Regions from separate parts of the Homo sapiens genome. Here region 2 is linked to region 1. The links come from fine-mapping of genetic effects on gene expression. A gene starts in region 1. The other region holds a variant in brackets. All regions are shown on one strand. Distances are between the middles of the regions.

Region 1 (8,340 bases):
TAACTAGAGCCTACCTCAAAAGACTGCTGCGAGGATGAAAAGAGTTAGTATACACACAATTGTTAGAGGAGGATCTGGCAAAAATATATTAGACATAGCTATTTTTATTATTGATGTATAGATTATGCAGTAAACTATATCAACATCAATAATCCTTTTTACCCAGAAACAAGTTGGAGAGAAGAAAAGGAAAATGAATTTTAAAAACTGAATGAAAGGTAAAAGTATCATTGGAATATTTGGAGCTGACTGTAAAGACTGTGACACCTTCCGATTTTTTGTCCCTTATCATCAATTCAGGTATTCCCTGAAGCACAATCAGTTGACCAAACTAAGAGCAGTGCCCTCAGGAAAGAATAAAATGAATAGTTTAATTTATCAACATCATTTACCCAGGTTATTTGAGTTCTTTTTATTTATTTTTTTTTTTGAGACGGAATCTCGCTGTCGCCCAGGTTGGAGTGCAGTGGCGCGATCTCGGCTCGCTGCAGGCTCCGCCTCCCAGGTTCACGCCATTCTCCTGCCTCAACCTCCCGTGTAGTTGGGACTATAGGCGCCCGCCACCTCGCCCGGCTAATTTTTTGTATTTTTAGTAGAGACGGGGTTTCACCGTGTTAGCCAGGATGGTCTCGATCTGCTGACCTCGTGATCCGCCCGCCTCGGCCTCCCAAAGTGCTGGGATTACAGGCGTGAGCCACCGCGCCCGGCCGGTTATTTGAGTTCTAAGCCAGAAAACTGAGAGCAGACACACACATAACGATACTTGGTTGCAAAATGGAAATAAAAAGCAATGTGTTAGGATAGGCTAGATTATGCTCCAGTAATAAATAATCTCCAAATCTCAGTAACTTAATACAACAAAAATGAATTTCTTGCTCATTCTACATGTTCAATTAGGGTTAGCAGGAAGGCTCTGACCATCACAGTAACTCAGGGACTTAGGTTGATGAAAGCTTCATCTTATTGATCTTCAAGGATCAATAAAACAGCGGAAACTGAAAAGGGCCAATTATGTACTAGCTCTTAAAAATGTCTGCGTTCTTCCCAGAAGTGACCACATGAGACTTCCTCTCACGTTTCAGCCAACGAAACAAGTTACATTTCACTGTTCAAAAGTCATAGCTAAGTTAAAATGGGATGAGGAAGAATAAAGTTACCATGTATCTACAAGGAGAAAAGCTTAACAAAAAGCAAGAAAGCAGCACATACAGTGACTGGTGGATTGCATTATTGTTCCACAAATATTACTCTCCCCTCCTGCACTCTGTGGGCAGACTGTACTTTTCTGCACCAATGACTTTGGACTTGGCCATGTTACTTACTTTGGTGAACGGAAAATGGCAGAAGCGAGACTGTGCCAGTTCTGAGCAGAGACCAGTCATCATGAGTCTCTGCCAACTCTCTTGCACTCCTGCACTCTGCCATGAAAATGACAGACTTAAACCAATCCATACCTAAACTATAGATCCTTGAGGGAGAAATGGATGTGTGTTGTATAATACTGAGATTGGGGAGTTCTTTGTTGAGCAGCATTGTTTCAGCAAAAAGATGACTAATACAGTGACTCAACACAAGGATTTCATGAGACTGGCTACTACACATATGGTTTCCAAGAAAGGATATGAAATAAGACCTTACTAGCTAGTATTCTAAGAAACGTAAAGCAAAATGAGATGGTGTTACATTATTAGTATACTAGCTAGATATAGAACTAAAATATAACTATCCAATTATTTACAAATTAAATAAGAAAAAAAATAAAAGGAGAATTTCTAGTGCTTTTGAGGCTAAGATAATAAAATTAGAAAGTCCTTTTATCCCAGGAAAATCGCCTTTAGTCCATTCCTGCTGCTATAGCAAAATAGCTTAGACTGGGTAATTTGTAAATAATAGAAATTTATTTCTCACAGTTCTGAAGGCTGGACCAAGATCAAGGTGCTGGCAGATTCAGTGTCTGGAAGAGCTTGCTCTCTGCTCCCAAGATGGCTCCTTGTTGCCACAGATGCTGTGTCCTCACATGGCTGGAGGGACAGAGGACAAAAGGGACCAGAGCAATCCTTTCAACCTCTTTTTTAAGAGCACTAATCCCATTCATGAGAGTGGAGTGTTCATGCCTTATCACTTCCTAAGACATATTCCTAAAAGGCCCCACCCTGTAGTACTATAACACTCGGTGTTAAGTACCAATGTATGAATTTTGAAGGCATACATACATTCAACCATAGCATAATTCAAAAAAGGAGAATGATAAAGGCAGAAAGCTCTTCATTAAGGCATTATTTATAACAGTCTAATATCAGAAACAGCATAACTATGCAATAGTAGAATATTTTAAGTAATCTATGGTCCTACTAATATTATAAAATATTGTACACTCATTAGAATAATAACTATGAACTTTCCCTAAAAACATGGACAAATATTTACTAAGTGAAAGAAGGAGAATATAAACATATACCTAAGCTGTAATCGTAATTATGTAAATAGATATTTAATATATATAGATAATGACTAAAGGGAATTTGGAGAAATTTAAACATTTGTGCTGTAGCAGTGGTTATATGGGTGAATATTTTTCTTCTGAAATCTAACGCAAAAAAATTGTTCTTTTGACAATAAGTATAATTTTTAAAACAACAAGGAAATTTCTCTTCTCAAGAATATACCCATGTGTGTAAGAAAGAGTTGGTGTTTGGATTAAAAGATGCATTTTTTAAAGAGTGGGAAAAAAATGCAACACATTTTTAATATTGAAGATCCCTGGGTATTCTGAGTAATCTATATAACTTTCTGTATTTTTCAAATGTTTTTACAATGAATGTGCTATAAACTTTTGAAAAAAGTTATTTTAAAAATACATGAACGTATTTTCTAGCGTCACTTCTGAGACCCCACAGCTCACCTAGTTAGTGCTATCATTTCTTGAATCCAGTGAGCTGCCTGTAGACAGAGTTCCTCTCCACAACTCGGTAGCCCATAATTTGATTTGAGACAAAGCTAAATATAGCCCCAACTTTGGTATGAAGGATGGGAATCTGACTCTCCCTGCCTTTTCTTCCCCCCCATCAGAGGCAACAGGATATTCTTTTCAAGACAGGTGGCCTGTGAGCCTTGTCTAAGATCAAACTGGACCTTGAAATTTTTCCTGGTAACATTTTGAGCTCTGGAGCAGTGTGGTCCTACCAATAAATCAAGTGTTGGAGGAGTCTAGACTAGGGGCTTTTTAGACAGTTCTGCTAAACCTTCAAATGTTTTGTTATCCTCCCCTCCCCACCCCTACTTTGTACTAGTATGTAGGGGAACCAATCCAAGAGATAACAGACAGATGACAGGTTCCCCCAAGAACACAGACTCCCCACAGTCTCACCAATACCCAGGCATGCCAGGTTCTTCCTGAGTTAAATGCCTAGGAGGCCTGAAAGAATAAATTCATCCTGGAGAAGTCTTGTGGGTCGTAGCTTTAGAAATTCAGGGAACATATCTCTGGGGCCACCCAATGGAGAACACAGCCTGTATCAGAACCTTAGCAGAGACTTTGGGCCTTTTGGGGTCTCAAATTTATCATCTCTGAAACAAGTACAACGAAATTAACATTGCCACATGTGGGCACTATAAAGCCTTTTTCAGATAAAAAAAAAGGTCAGTGATAGTGCTAATAATAACAGTGATTATGTCATTTAATAAAACGGTCTTATTTGAAAGCTAAAAAGGAGCTTCAGGGTGGCAAGCACTCTAATTATAGTATGTCTGCCTTGTTTAAATCTTGATACATAAGTACATGGTACAGGGCCTGAGGCAATGCCATCTCCAAAGAGGCCTTTTCCATGATCTTAAAACAGTCACAAGGGAGTGTCGAGGTCCTGATGGCTACTGTCTTGAGGCTTTTCTAGTGTTCTGGGAGTCAGGAAGCTTCTCCCTCCTTGAAGCTATTGGTAGAGCCCAGTTGCTGGCGAAACTGAAAAACGAGGAGGTAGAATACCCTAAAACAGGAGATGTCTGGGATACAGGCAGCTAATAGGGCTGTAAGGTTTTGTTGGGATGCTTCCCTTCCTGATGAAGGGTCCTGTCCCTGGATTAATGGTGAAACTGGCATGTCACATCTCTAGGAAGACAACATCGTGTTCCATGACCACGTAGGGTATACATCTGCATTCAGCCGGGATTGCTCCTAAACCTTCCTAGACTCCATCTCTGGCTCTGGGGTTACCTGTGGGTGGGGCGATGCAGACACACAAGAAAACCTCCTCTACAAATTCTTCCTGTAGTTGGTTGATTGTATTCTAAGACCTTCGTTGGGATGGGCGAGGGACGGGGCTTGGTACCGCGTCCTCTAAGCTCTCTGCCCTCTGCCGTCATCATTCATCTGAGCCAGCGAGAGAGGGGTCGGGGAGACGCGAGGGTGGTTCAGGGGGCGTGTAACCTGGGCCGATTCTGCCCCAGCACACTGGTTGTCGGGAGCCCCGCCTCCGCTCGCGGTTGACAGCTCAGCTGGTGCCGAGCAACTCGTGCCAGCCAGTCGTGTCTCAGCCTGGAGAGTGCGCGCACCGCGGCCCGGGCAGCCGCTGGCTCCAGCTCACGAAACAGCCCCGGGCGCCGCGCCGCTCTGAGTCCAGCCTCCTACTGAGAACAGTCCCTCCCTTGTGCGGGTCGCACGGCTAGCCGCAGGTTCGGCCACGTCAAATCCATTTTCTAAAAAAGCAGGGAGCAGAGCTCTCTCTTCGCCGCCGACGCAGAAAGGAGCTGGGGAGGAAAAAGCTGCTGCCTTTTGCGCTGGAGATTCGTGGGCAAGGCTTCTCATTTTCCCAGGCTGCTTCCCCTCCCGGGTGAGGAGCGTCCTGAGACTAAGGAAAGAGCCTGGAAAATGGAGCAGACCTGGACGAGGTAGGTGGGCTGTTTCCTTCTCGCCGCGCTCCAGACTTGGTGGTCCTCCTCCCTCCCCTCCCCCAGCGCCCTTAGGGAGAGAGAGGTCGCCCCTCACCACCAGGGTCCCGTGACAGCTTCCCTTTTCTGTAGCCTCGCCCTGCCTGGTTCCCAGCCCACCTCTCTTGGTCATTTTCACATGTTCTGTTTTACGGGGTTTCCCTTGCTTAATGACTCTCCCCTCCACCGAGTCCTGATGTTAAAAATACCCAGGGAGGCCGCCTGGAACTTTCTGTAGAAATGGTTCTCTGTCGTTTCCTTGTTCGTGTGGCTAGAGGGATTCCAGTAGGTCTTCTTGAGAGATATGTTTGATGTCAGATGCTTTGAACAATATCAGGTTTATTCTCACCCTGCCACGTTTTCCTTCTCAGCCTCATCTGTCACTACTCACACAAAGGCAAAGGGACTGAGTGAGCAGAGCCCAGCAGCACTCATCTCCACAACCTCCAGTTGGAGCCCACTTGGGGGAGGAATGGAGAAGGAAAGAGATCAGGGCACCACACTGCTCAGGCTTTATTGAGGCCAGGCAACAGTTGGCTTTTAGGTCAGATTTTGGAGATGGCCTGTGAAACTGCGTTTTCTTCCAGTCCTTCCCCCAGACACACTTTAAAATGAAGCCCCATTCAAGGAAAGGGTAAGGATAAGAGACCATGTATTGAGACAAAGACTTCGTTTCTGTTTTTTAGTGGGTGGGAGGGTAGGGAGACTATTCCAGCGGTGTCTCTATAACAGATACGCTTCCATCTGTGGGATTTAGCTTTGGAGAATTGGGGTGGGGCCAAATGAGCGCTCTGACTCCTGAGAGAGTGAAGACGGTACAAACACAGAAGGTAAATTTGGGGCTTATGCAAAAGACTTGGGTGCTTTTAGTTGATTGCTAAGCTCAACAGGAGTGAATGGTATAATGTGAATATTAAAGAAGGAGCAAATTGAAGCTTAGGGTTTGTTGACAGAAGAAGTAGGCTGTCTAGATTCTGTCTAGATCAAAAGTGATGATTTTACTTTTGGCTCCTTTCTGCTCCTCTTGGGCCTCTCCGAGAGGGCTGTGCTTAGTTCTGGGCATCATTAGATAAAATAAGTACAATCAAGAGACAGGAGGGAACTCAAAGCCATGCCTTGAGGGATGGCCAAAGGAAGGACCTGGGACTCCTGAGTCCGGAGAAATGACGACTGGGAGTGGGGAGGATGTGGTAGCTTCCTTCAAATTTCCGAAGAGCTATTGGTGGTAGAGGGATTGAATCACATTAGAATCTCTTAGGAGGACAGAACAACCGATGCAAGCGAGTTGTTGGGAGGCGAGTTATGGCTCAGTGTAAAGAAAAAGCTTTCTGGCCAGGTGCAGTGGCTCATGCCTGTAATCCCAGCACTTTGGGAGGCTGAGGCAGGCGGATCACCTGAGGTCGGGAGTTCGAGACCAGCCTGACCAACATGGAGAAACCCCATCTCTACTAAAATACAAAATTAGCCGGGCGTGGTCGCACGTGCCTGTAATCCCAGCTACTCCGGAGGCTGAGGCAGGAGAATCGCTTGAACCCGGGAGGAGAAGTTTGTGGTGAGCCGAGATCAAGCCATTGCACTCCAGCCTGGGCAACAAAAGCGAAACTCCGCCTCAAAAAAAAAAAAAAAAAAAAAAAAAAAAAAGACCAGGCGAGGTGGCTCACGCCTGTAATTGCAGTACTTTGGGAGGCTGAGGGGGGCGGATTACGAGGTCAGGAGATTGAGACCATCCTGGCTAACACAGTGAAGCCCCGTCTCTACTAAAAACACAAAAAAAATTAGCCGGGCGTGGTGGCGGGCGCCTGTAGTACCAGCTACTTGGGAGGCTGAGGTAGGAGAATGGCGTGAACCCGGGAAGCGGAGCTTGCAGTGAGCCGAGATCGCGCCACTGCACTCCAGCCTGGGCGACAGAGCGAGACTCCGTCTCAAAAAAAAATTAAAAAAAAGCTTTCTAACAAGTTAGCTGCCTGGGCAGTATGGGCAGTAAAGAGATTGTTGACCCTGGAGTTACTCAGGCAAAGGCTAGATGACCACTTGATGGTGATGGGAGTGAGTGTATCAGGGCCTTTTGCTCTCTGCCAGTGTTTTTCACACTTGAAGAAAAAAGTATTATTTATTAAGTTTTAAAAATTTTATATTTACATGTAACAATTTCAGACAAATTCAGAAATGATTTGGAAAAATCGCAAATTATATATTTACAGTCCAATTAATTTGACAAACTGAGTATACTCATGGGATGGGCATTCAGATAGAGAAAGGGAACATTACCAGCATCCCTGAAGCCCTCCTGATGACTTCAAGGATAATCATTATCCTAATTTTTAACACCATAGAATAATTTTGCCTAGTTTTGAACTTTATGTAAATGAAATTATACACCATGTACTCTTTCGTACGTGGCTCCTTTCACTCAATCTTTTGCTTTTGGAGTTCTATACTGTTATATGGTACTGTAGTCCATTTATTCTTGCTTTTAAATAGGCTTCTATAGTGTATAAATATATCAAATTTATTTGTCCATTCTATTCTTAATAGGCACTTGGGCAATTTCCAGTTTGGAGCTATTATAAACAGTGTTGCTATGAACATTTCTGTACAGGTCTTTTGATGAACATATGTACACATTTCTGTTGAGTAAATAAGTAGAAGTATGATTTCTGCGTAATAGGAAATGCATGTTCAGATTTAGTAAATACTGCCAGATTGTTTTTTTTTAAACAGATTACAAAAGAGATTTCTAAAGCGGGTATCCAGGCCAGGCGCGGTGGCTCACGCCTGTAATCCCAGCACTTTGGGAGGCCGAGGCGGGCGGATCACGGGGTCAGGAGATCGAGATAGTCCTGGCTAACACGGTGAAACCCCGTCTCTACTAAAAATACAAAAAATTAGCCCGGCGTGGTTGCAGGCACCTGTAGTCCCAGCTACTCGGGAGGCTGAGGCAGGAGAATGGCCTGAACCTGGGAGGCGGAGCTTGCAGTGAGCCGAGATCGCACCACTGCACTCCAGCCTGGGTGACAGAGCGAGCCTACATCTCAAAAAAAAAAAAAAAAAAAAAAAAAAAAAAAAAAAAAAAAAAAAAAAAGAGGGTATCCAAAGGGAAGAACATAGTGAAAAGGTGCTCCACATCACTAGTTATCAGGGAAATGCAAATTAGAACCACAACACCATGCTGCTATATACATATCAGAATGGCTGAAATTAAAAAGATAGAAAGTAGCAAATGCTGGCAAGGTGGACCATTCAGAATGTTCACATATTTTTTAACCACTACTCACAATAAGTAATATATTTACATTGCCACCAAGTACTCTTACATATGTAACAAAGTTTCTTGTAACAATACTTAACTTTACTATGTGTTTTGCACTCTGATATTTGCTATTCTATTCTTTTTCTTTAAAAATAAAATGTTGGCTCTGA
Region 2 (8,340 bases), 180 kb after region 1:
TTCATTCTTACATTCATTCTTACATTACAAGAGGAAGGGATATTGGCAAGACAATTGATGTCCTCTTTTGGAAACCTAAATGTTCCCTCTGCTATTCCTGATTTTTGTGTGTCAGTGGGGTGGGGGGAGGGGCGCTTTGAGCAGAAGAAAGGACTTCTCTGGGAATGCCTTGTCACTCCCAAGTTGAGAGAGTAAAACTCTGTTATAGAAGTCTTCAGTATATCAGAGACATGAAAAAGAAGGGTTCCCATGCTTCCAATTAGATATAGGACATTAGTCTCACCATCACCTAGGAAGCTTCTATACTGGCTGTGATGCTTGGTCCCAGCATAAGCCCTGTAACTGCTTGTCAGAATGCAAAGAGCACTGTAGGAACAGTAAGGAGACTGTGCTGGTGTGTCTGTTCTGCTCTGAACTAATGTAGGTAATGGTGTGTTTTCAAGCAAAGTTACTTGACCTCCCTCAGCCTCCATTTCCATATCTGCGAAATAAAAGTGATAGTCTTCATGACCCCCTGAGTTGACATCTGGGGCTCAGATGTAACCCTAACTGTAACCCTTTATGACCCTCTGAGTTGACATCTGGCTCTCAGCCTGTTGCTCTGGTGTGGCTGAGTAGCTCTGCCATCTCAGTGGGCCTTGCCTCTCCCTGGTCAGACTGCAGCACAAGCTGGTTCTCCTGCAGCAACAGTGTGAAGAGAAACAGCAGCTCTTTGAGTCCCTCCAGTCAGAGCTACAAATCTACGAGGCACTTTATGGCAATTCCAAGAAGGGGCTGAAAGGTATGTGTTCTTCTCCCCTCACCCCATGAGCTTTTTGCCCTTGCATAGGATGCTAGTGAGGTCTTTCCTTTGGGAGTTGTGGAGATCATGGGAAGCTACAGAGTTCTGTTGCAGAAACCCCCACCCGAGCCTGGGGCTCCCAGTAGGAGCTCTCAAACACAAAGCCCAACGGGACAGGTTGGTGGCACGAGCAAGATCCGGCCTGATCATTCCTAATTACTTTAAGAAAATCTAGACATTCCTATCAATGTCTAGATTGTAACATTTTTGAAAGCAAAAGAACTGTCCTAATGATATCATCATTTGAAAAGGCCTTTAATATTGTCGGTGATACATACTGACAACCCATTCAGCCCAATGCAGCAGGCAGTCCGCTCCCACCCTGACCCTTTCCCTAGTGACATCTGGCGCTCAGCTTATTGCCCTCTCATGTAATTTTCATAAATCCTGATTTAGTTTCCTGATTTTCTAAAGAGAAGGTGAACTGGAATTTGAAGAAATACAGGGGCTTACCAGGCTGGGCGAATAGCTTAAGTACAAAGTCATGGTGAGTGTTGAGTCAGTGGGGACCAGCCTGCCCACAGGAGAAAATTAAAAGACACAAAAACAAAAACAAAAAAACCTTATAGAAATACCACTAATAGGACCTAAATTTCAATCCTGGATTTAAATATTAAGGACATTTATTGAAGACTTTGCTGCCTGCTGAAATAATAATCTAATATTTGAGAATTTTGATATATTTCTTCATTCTTTAAATGGAGAAGGGTATTCAAAACATAATGTGAATAAGTCACAGCAGGCTGGAACAGAGGACGACATCAATGTCGTGAAATTTAGCAAAGATAAAAAGCAAAATCCTGAGCTTGATTAAAAATATCAGTGGTAGAAATATAGGATGAGGGTAGAAATATAGGACAGGCAGCCATTCATGGACATGAGGGTTTGGGGTTTGGTAGAAACATGTTCACACAAGTAAGGTGTAGGACAAAGGTTGCTAGAAATGCCAGCTCAAACTGGAACTACAGTAGTGTAAGTGTGATGTTCGCCTGTGGAGACCATGTCTAAAATATTGTTAGATTAAGGGGCACCATCTTTGAAAAGGGCGTTGACACACTAGGGAACATAATGAAGACAGGGCGCACAATGGTGTGGACCAGAAATCTCCAACTAGTCAAAGAAACTAAAGAAATGTAGGCTTTCAAAAGATCTTGAGGACATGAGAACTGGCTTCGGATATTTGAAGAAGTGTCAGGTGAAAAAGAACTCATGTATTTTATGTCCCTCCAGAAGGCTAAACAAAGAGTGAAGGGCAGTGGAAGTTAGATTAGAATTATCATAAATCCTGATTTAGTTTCCTGATTTTCTAAAGAGAAGGTGAACTGGAACCTGAAGAAATAGAGGGGGCTCACCAGGCTGGGAGAATAATTTAAGTACACAGTCATGGTGAGTGTTGGGTCAGTGGGACCAGCCTGACCACAGGAGAAGCTTGAGGTTGGAGTGAGAAGTCAGGATGGTGGAGCAGAGTCACCAAATCTTGAAAGCTCACAGGTCAGGGTAAAAGTTGACATTCTGTATAGTAGATAATGAAACTAAGTCTGTTCTTTTTCAAAGAAGATAAGCATATGATGAAAACAGAACTTTAGGATGCTAAGTCTTAGGGGATGTCCTGGAATTGGGAGACATTAGAATCTGGGAAACGTATTGGATGGGTCTAGTGATATTCTGGCACATTAAGAGATGACAGTCTAATATAAGGTGCTATTGGGAAGATGAAAGGGTATAGATAGATTTTAAAACATCTCTTAAAAAATAAGCAAAATTTAGTGAGAAGTTGGGTTGAGAAAGAGAGAGAGGAACATCATAAAACTTTGGGCAAAATTCAAGAGTAGATTATTTACCAAAGTCCCTAAAATTGGTTCATCCTGAGCTACCTTTCCTTTCATGCTTTTCTCCCTGCCTTTTAGGACTCATTTCAAAGCTACAACCACTAAAGCTCCATAATCTCTTATCTGTAATTTCAAAATCCAGTAAGATTTCCAAATTAAATTTTTCAAATACTCATTTAGTGACAAAATCTAGATGATCTGACATGAGGATATTCATAAGTCTTTATTTATCTACTTAGAATATTCACATAGCTCATTGCGGAAATAGTTATATGTTTGATAAAGGATTGTGGCTCACATGCAACTGGGTACATGTTATATATGATATATGCACCCTGTTGCCTTGCTAAAAACTAAAACAAATTTTACCTTTCGAAATACATTTGGCCTTAAGGTTTTCAGATAAGGGATTGTAGCCTCGTAGAATATTTCTTAGATCTCTTCATCCCCAGTACAAAGAAATAGCCATGTGGTGAATGGAGGTAAATATATATACATATATATATTTATATATATGTGCATGTATATATATGTGTGTACATGTCATATATGTACATGTATATGTGTGCACATATATATGTACATGTATATGTGTGCACATATATATGTACATGTATATGTGTGCACATATATATGTACATGTATATGTGTGCACATATATATGTACATGTATATGTGTGCACATATATATGTACATGTATATGTGTGCACATATATATGTACATGTATATGTGTGTACATATATATGTACATGTATATGTGTGCACATATATATGTACATGTATATGTGTGCACATATATACACCTATATATAGTATGTATATACACACAACATATATAAACACACTATATGTAGGTGTATATATATGTACACACACACACACATATATATAGAGAGAGAGAGAGAAAGAGAGAGAGAGAAATTGAAAAACTCAGTTATAATCCCTCGTCTAAGGTGCCCAACTCACATTCTCACATGCTACCAAAAGACCTCCTCCTTCTCTTTCATTTTTGAGAGTGAGGACTATGAAATCTCTTTCTTCCTCATCCCCTACCCTTCTCTAGCTCAGTGCTGACCTTCTACCTTGGAGTATCCTATACTTTAGCCTACAGGATTAAGGTTACTATGGAGATGAAATATGGACTTATCTTCATCTGCCAATCAAATGCTCTATAGGTGCATGTGTGTAACTTAAGCCGCAGGGAAGTTTCAGACTGGATGTGTGCCAGCTCAGTGCCATCCCCAGGCCACACACAGAAATGGTGACATCTCCATCACAGATGGGTTGCATGAGACTCAGATGATAGTGGGGTCCTTGGCAGAAAAGAATGTCACAGAGGAGGGTTCTGACAAGTGCTTGGAAATACTTGGGTCAATGTTACCAGACTCCTTCTCTCTCAGCTTACAGCCTGGATGCCTGTCACCAAATCCCTTTGAGCAGTGACCTGAGCCACCTGGTGGCAGAGGTACGAGCTCTGAGAGGGCAGCTGGAGCAGAGCATTCAGGGGAACAATTGTCTGCGACTGCAGCTGCAACAGCAGCTGGAGAGCGGTGCTGGCAAAGCCAGCCTCAGCCCCTCCTCCATTAACCAGAACTTCCCAGCCAGCACTGACCCTGGAAACAAGCAGCTGCTCCTCCAAGGTAGGAAGGAAAAGGGACTTAGAAAGCCCTTGGCCAGTGGGGAGATCACCAGGAAGTTCTGCGGCAGAAGGTGTAATCTGCCTGGTCCATGCTCCTTAGGGTCAGGTTGAAATCAGAGATGCTCTAGTCTAGCAACCTGAGTGAAAGCGTGGGATTTAGGTCAGACTGGGCTCCAGATTCTGAGTTTACCACTTAGAGGTCGTTTGATTTGGGCAAGGTGTCTAAAGTCTCAGAGGTTTAAGCTTTAGTTTCCTTATATTTAAGATGAGGATAATGATCATATGTACCTTATATGATTTTGAGCATTAAATGAAATCATTTACAAGTGCTTGGCACACTAAGAATTACTCAATAATTAGCAGCTGTATATGTTCATATCTTTTTCTTGGATTTGCTTGGTGCTTTAGTTTTAGCCAAGTGTTTTCACATATATAATTTCATCTGAAGTAAAGCAGGTTTTGCTATCTCTGTATTTCACATAAGAAAACTTAGGTCCTGAGATATTAACAGACAAGCGGGGATTTAGAGAAGTTATAGACAAAGCCAGGATCAGAACCAGATGTTGTGATTTTCAGTCTGTGTTCCTTCCAGCTCATTGTGCCCTGTCTCAGTATTGCCGACCTTCCCAGATTCTCTAGTCCCCCTTTCCCTCACAGGTGGGGAACTCAGTGTATGGTAAAATGTTCCTGCCCCTAAGGAAACAGGGCTCTGGGGAAGTCCTGGATGGTGGGTGATTTATTTCGGGTGGTCATCATTCGCTTTCTCTACCCCACCCCTTGCCTGCCTTTTCAGATAGGC[G/A]TGTTTGACCAGGTCCCCCTTCTCAATATCCTCTATCAATCTCACTTCTCCCAGTTTTCATTGAAATGTCAATGGTGTCCCCCTAGTCTCTTAAATCATTCAATTTCTACTTCCTCTGTCCTTTTCTCCTTTTGATACACCGTTTAGTACACCATCTCCACTCACCTCCATGGCCATACCTTCAATTTTATTCAAATCAGGAACCACTTCTGTTCAGTTTCTCTAAAGCTGAGCTTTCAAACTCTCCTGCCAGCTATTTCTGGGTCATGTTAATCTTTGTTTTTCTGTGGTTCTTGTAGATTCTCATTTATCTGACAGTAACCTTATTTGTCAAATGAAGGTGACAATAACATGATTATGCTGTTTTGGCAATTCAATAAAAAAACACATGTGGTCCACCAAGCAAACCGCCTGACCACCAGGCACTGCTCAGCTTACATTAGTTGGACACCTTGCCCTCCTCTGGGCTGCCCTGATGGTTGTGGTGTTCAGTTATGTCTCCAACTCTTCCTTCTAACCAGGCCTTCTTCTCTCACTGGCTTCCCATACAGCAGCCAAGACTCAGCCCCACTGATGCAGTCCCTGCCCCTCTTTCTCTAGCACCCCGGAGGCCTGAGCTGGAAAGCAGGCACTGGGCCACACTTGCCTGAGCAGGACCTTTTCTACCTTCTTTGTGATATTTTCCAATTCCTCCACCATAGGGTTGCTTTTTAGTCTCCAGCAAGACAATGTTAACCCACCAAGCCTTCTGTCTCCGTTCTTCTCATACAAGTCAATTTTTTTCAGTATTACCTCATCAGAATGATGACTAGAATGTTGAGTCCCCCATGAATCCATTCATTCCTTGATTCTTTGATTCTAGATTTTAATATGTACTATGTATATTTATACATATTACATTTAGTTACAGGGCATCATATTAGATACCACACACAAATTATACTTAAGACTCGGTTTATAAAAATACACCTAATAATTTTTCAAACTAGAAGTTACGTTCTCATGGAACACCCCTCAATTACAGGAATATCTTTTTGTTCTGAAGAATGGAAACATTCTGAACTCAGTGACTCATAGGCTTTTGATTTTGCTTTGGCTTGTGGGGTATGGATAATTCTGTAAGAGGAGAGTCCTGCCACCTTAGGTCTCAGTGGGGACAGCTAGGTGTGCATGTGCTTCATGTGCAGTGTGTTCCAGGGCTCCTGAAAACTGTGGTTGCCTTTACCCCCTAGATTCAGCTGTGTCCCCTCCAGTCCGGGATGTTGGTATGAATTCCCCAGCTCTGGTCTTCCCCAGCTCTGCTTCCTCTACTCCTGGCTCAGAAACGCCCATAATCAACAGAGCAAATGGTAAATATGGCAACTAAAGGGCCCAGGGACTGATGATGGAAAGTGATTAATGCAAACAACCTTTTGTTGTCTCTAAACATATTATCTGTATTTAGAGAGTTTTCTCTGCATGCCCCAAGGCCTTTAGCCCTACTCCCTGCACCTTCTGTGGCTGCCTTTCTTGCCATTGTTCATCCTCCTGTAGTTTTCCTACTGCTGTTTTTGCTTCATTGCACCATAATCTCTCTATTCTTGAAAATGCTGTCTGTATCCAGCTTGACTTCCTTGTCTGTGTCTTCTCTACTCAGAAACTTATTATTTATTATGATTCATCCTATTTCATTTGCCAATAAGGAAAAAATTGTCTCCTGGCAAATTTATCATTAAGAGATAATGTAAGAAAGATTATAAAAATATAGAAGCCAGAAGATCTCTATGGACTTTGCCCCACCCTTGTACATTCCCAGGCTTCCTTTCTTGTTCCCGGCCTCGTCCTTTTCTTGTTCCCTACCTCTTTTTTAGTTGGAGCAAACTGAGGATATCATTATGAATAACAGAAGATTCTGTTGTGTTGTCATTTTCTTTTTCAGGCTTGGGTTTGGATACTTCTCCAGTAATGAAGACCCCTCCCAAGCTAGAGGGTGATGCTACTGATGGCTCCTTTGCCAATAAGCATGGCCGCCATGTCATTGGCCACATTGATGACTACAGTGCCCTAAGACAGCAGATTGCGGAGGGCAAGCTGCTGGTCAAAAAGATAGTGTCTCTTGTGAGATCAGCGTGCAGCTTCCCTGGCCTTGAAGCCCAAGGCACAGAGGTAATCACACCTGAAGCTTTAGGTGCACTCTTTCCCTGTGCCCTTTCTTCCTTTGATGTTAACTCCTTCTCCCACCATTTTTGTTTTTTTCATGCTTTGCATCTCTCAACAGCTGAGACTTCCTCTTCCATGTATAGCAGCCAGGCCCTTTCTTCTCTATCTCCTATTTTCACTGTGAGTTCTGCTCTGTTCCAGATGTAGCTGACTGGATATTTCCCCTCAGCCCCACAGAAACATGTGGCATTGCCTAGCAGCCTTTGGTAGCTTATTATCTACCATAGTCATGCAGGCACATGACCATCTGTGGGCAGAGTCAACTCAATGGGATGGATAGAAACTGAAGGATTTGCAGGTGTATGGCCCCCACATGTGGAAGGGGTGAGAAGCCTGGCAGCCATGTCATTTCCTTGTGCAGACTGCATAGAGGGAGGGAAGGCAGTCAGCAAAGCTTCTGAGAGCACCTTGCCAGTGAGAGAGACCAGGAACCTGTGGCTGTGCTGTCTGAGCTGCTGGAGACCCATGGATGCGTAGGGACAGCCCTGCCTCCACGGAGCCCCCACACTAGAGGGCAAGACACACACCCAAGTAGATAAGCACAGTAAGGGGCTACAGGCACAGTATGAGAAGTCATCCTCTGTGCTGTGAGAGCTCCAATACAAATGTGGTCATTTATCTCAGGCAAGGAAGGTAACAGGCTCATAGAGGACATAGCAAGGGGGGTGAGTTTTGAAAGCCTTGTGGGTTCTGCAGGTGGAGGAAGGCATTCCTGGTAAAGGGAGCAGCACCTTAGTTCTGAGAGCTGCAAATGGTTGTGTGAGGGCTTCACAGGTTCAAGCAGGCCCATGTTCTATGCCTCACTCACAAAGGAAGCTTGAGCCCATGCAGGGGGAAGAAAGTAATCTCTCCGCTCCTGTGGTGTTACCTTTCCCCAGGTGCTAGGCAGCAAAGGTATTCATGAGCTTCGGAGCAGCACCAGTGCCCTGCACCATGCCCTAGAGGAGTCAGCTTCCCTCCTCACCATGTTCTGGAGAGCGGCCCTGCCAAGCACCCACATCCCTGTGCTGCCTGGCAAAGTGGTAAGATGC

Evidence for each region. PIP is the estimated chance that this variant, and not a neighbour inherited with it, causes the effect.
Region 2: its variant is fine-mapped to the expression of PDE4DIP in whole blood (TOPMed, PIP above 0.99).

What each region holds. Positions count from the first base shown.
Region 1 is chr1:148,839,914-148,848,253 of GRCh38, forward strand. PDE4DIP (phosphodiesterase 4D interacting protein) reads left to right here and starts at 4,515. Exons shown (of 47, transcript NM_001395426.1): 1 at 4,515-4,881. The coding sequence starts at 4,862. RefSeq lists enhancers at 3,964-4,685, 4,686-5,408.
Region 2 is chr1:149,020,373-149,028,712 of GRCh38, forward strand. PDE4DIP (phosphodiesterase 4D interacting protein) reads left to right here. Exons shown (of 47, transcript NM_001395426.1): 40 at 657-781; 41 at 4,073-4,312; 42 at 6,343-6,459; 43 at 7,029-7,255; 44 at 8,188-8,331. Among named protein-coding and RNA genes, the nearest start is that of NBPF9, 79 kb to the right of the region's middle. The variant G/A (reference allele first, on the strand shown) is at 5,111.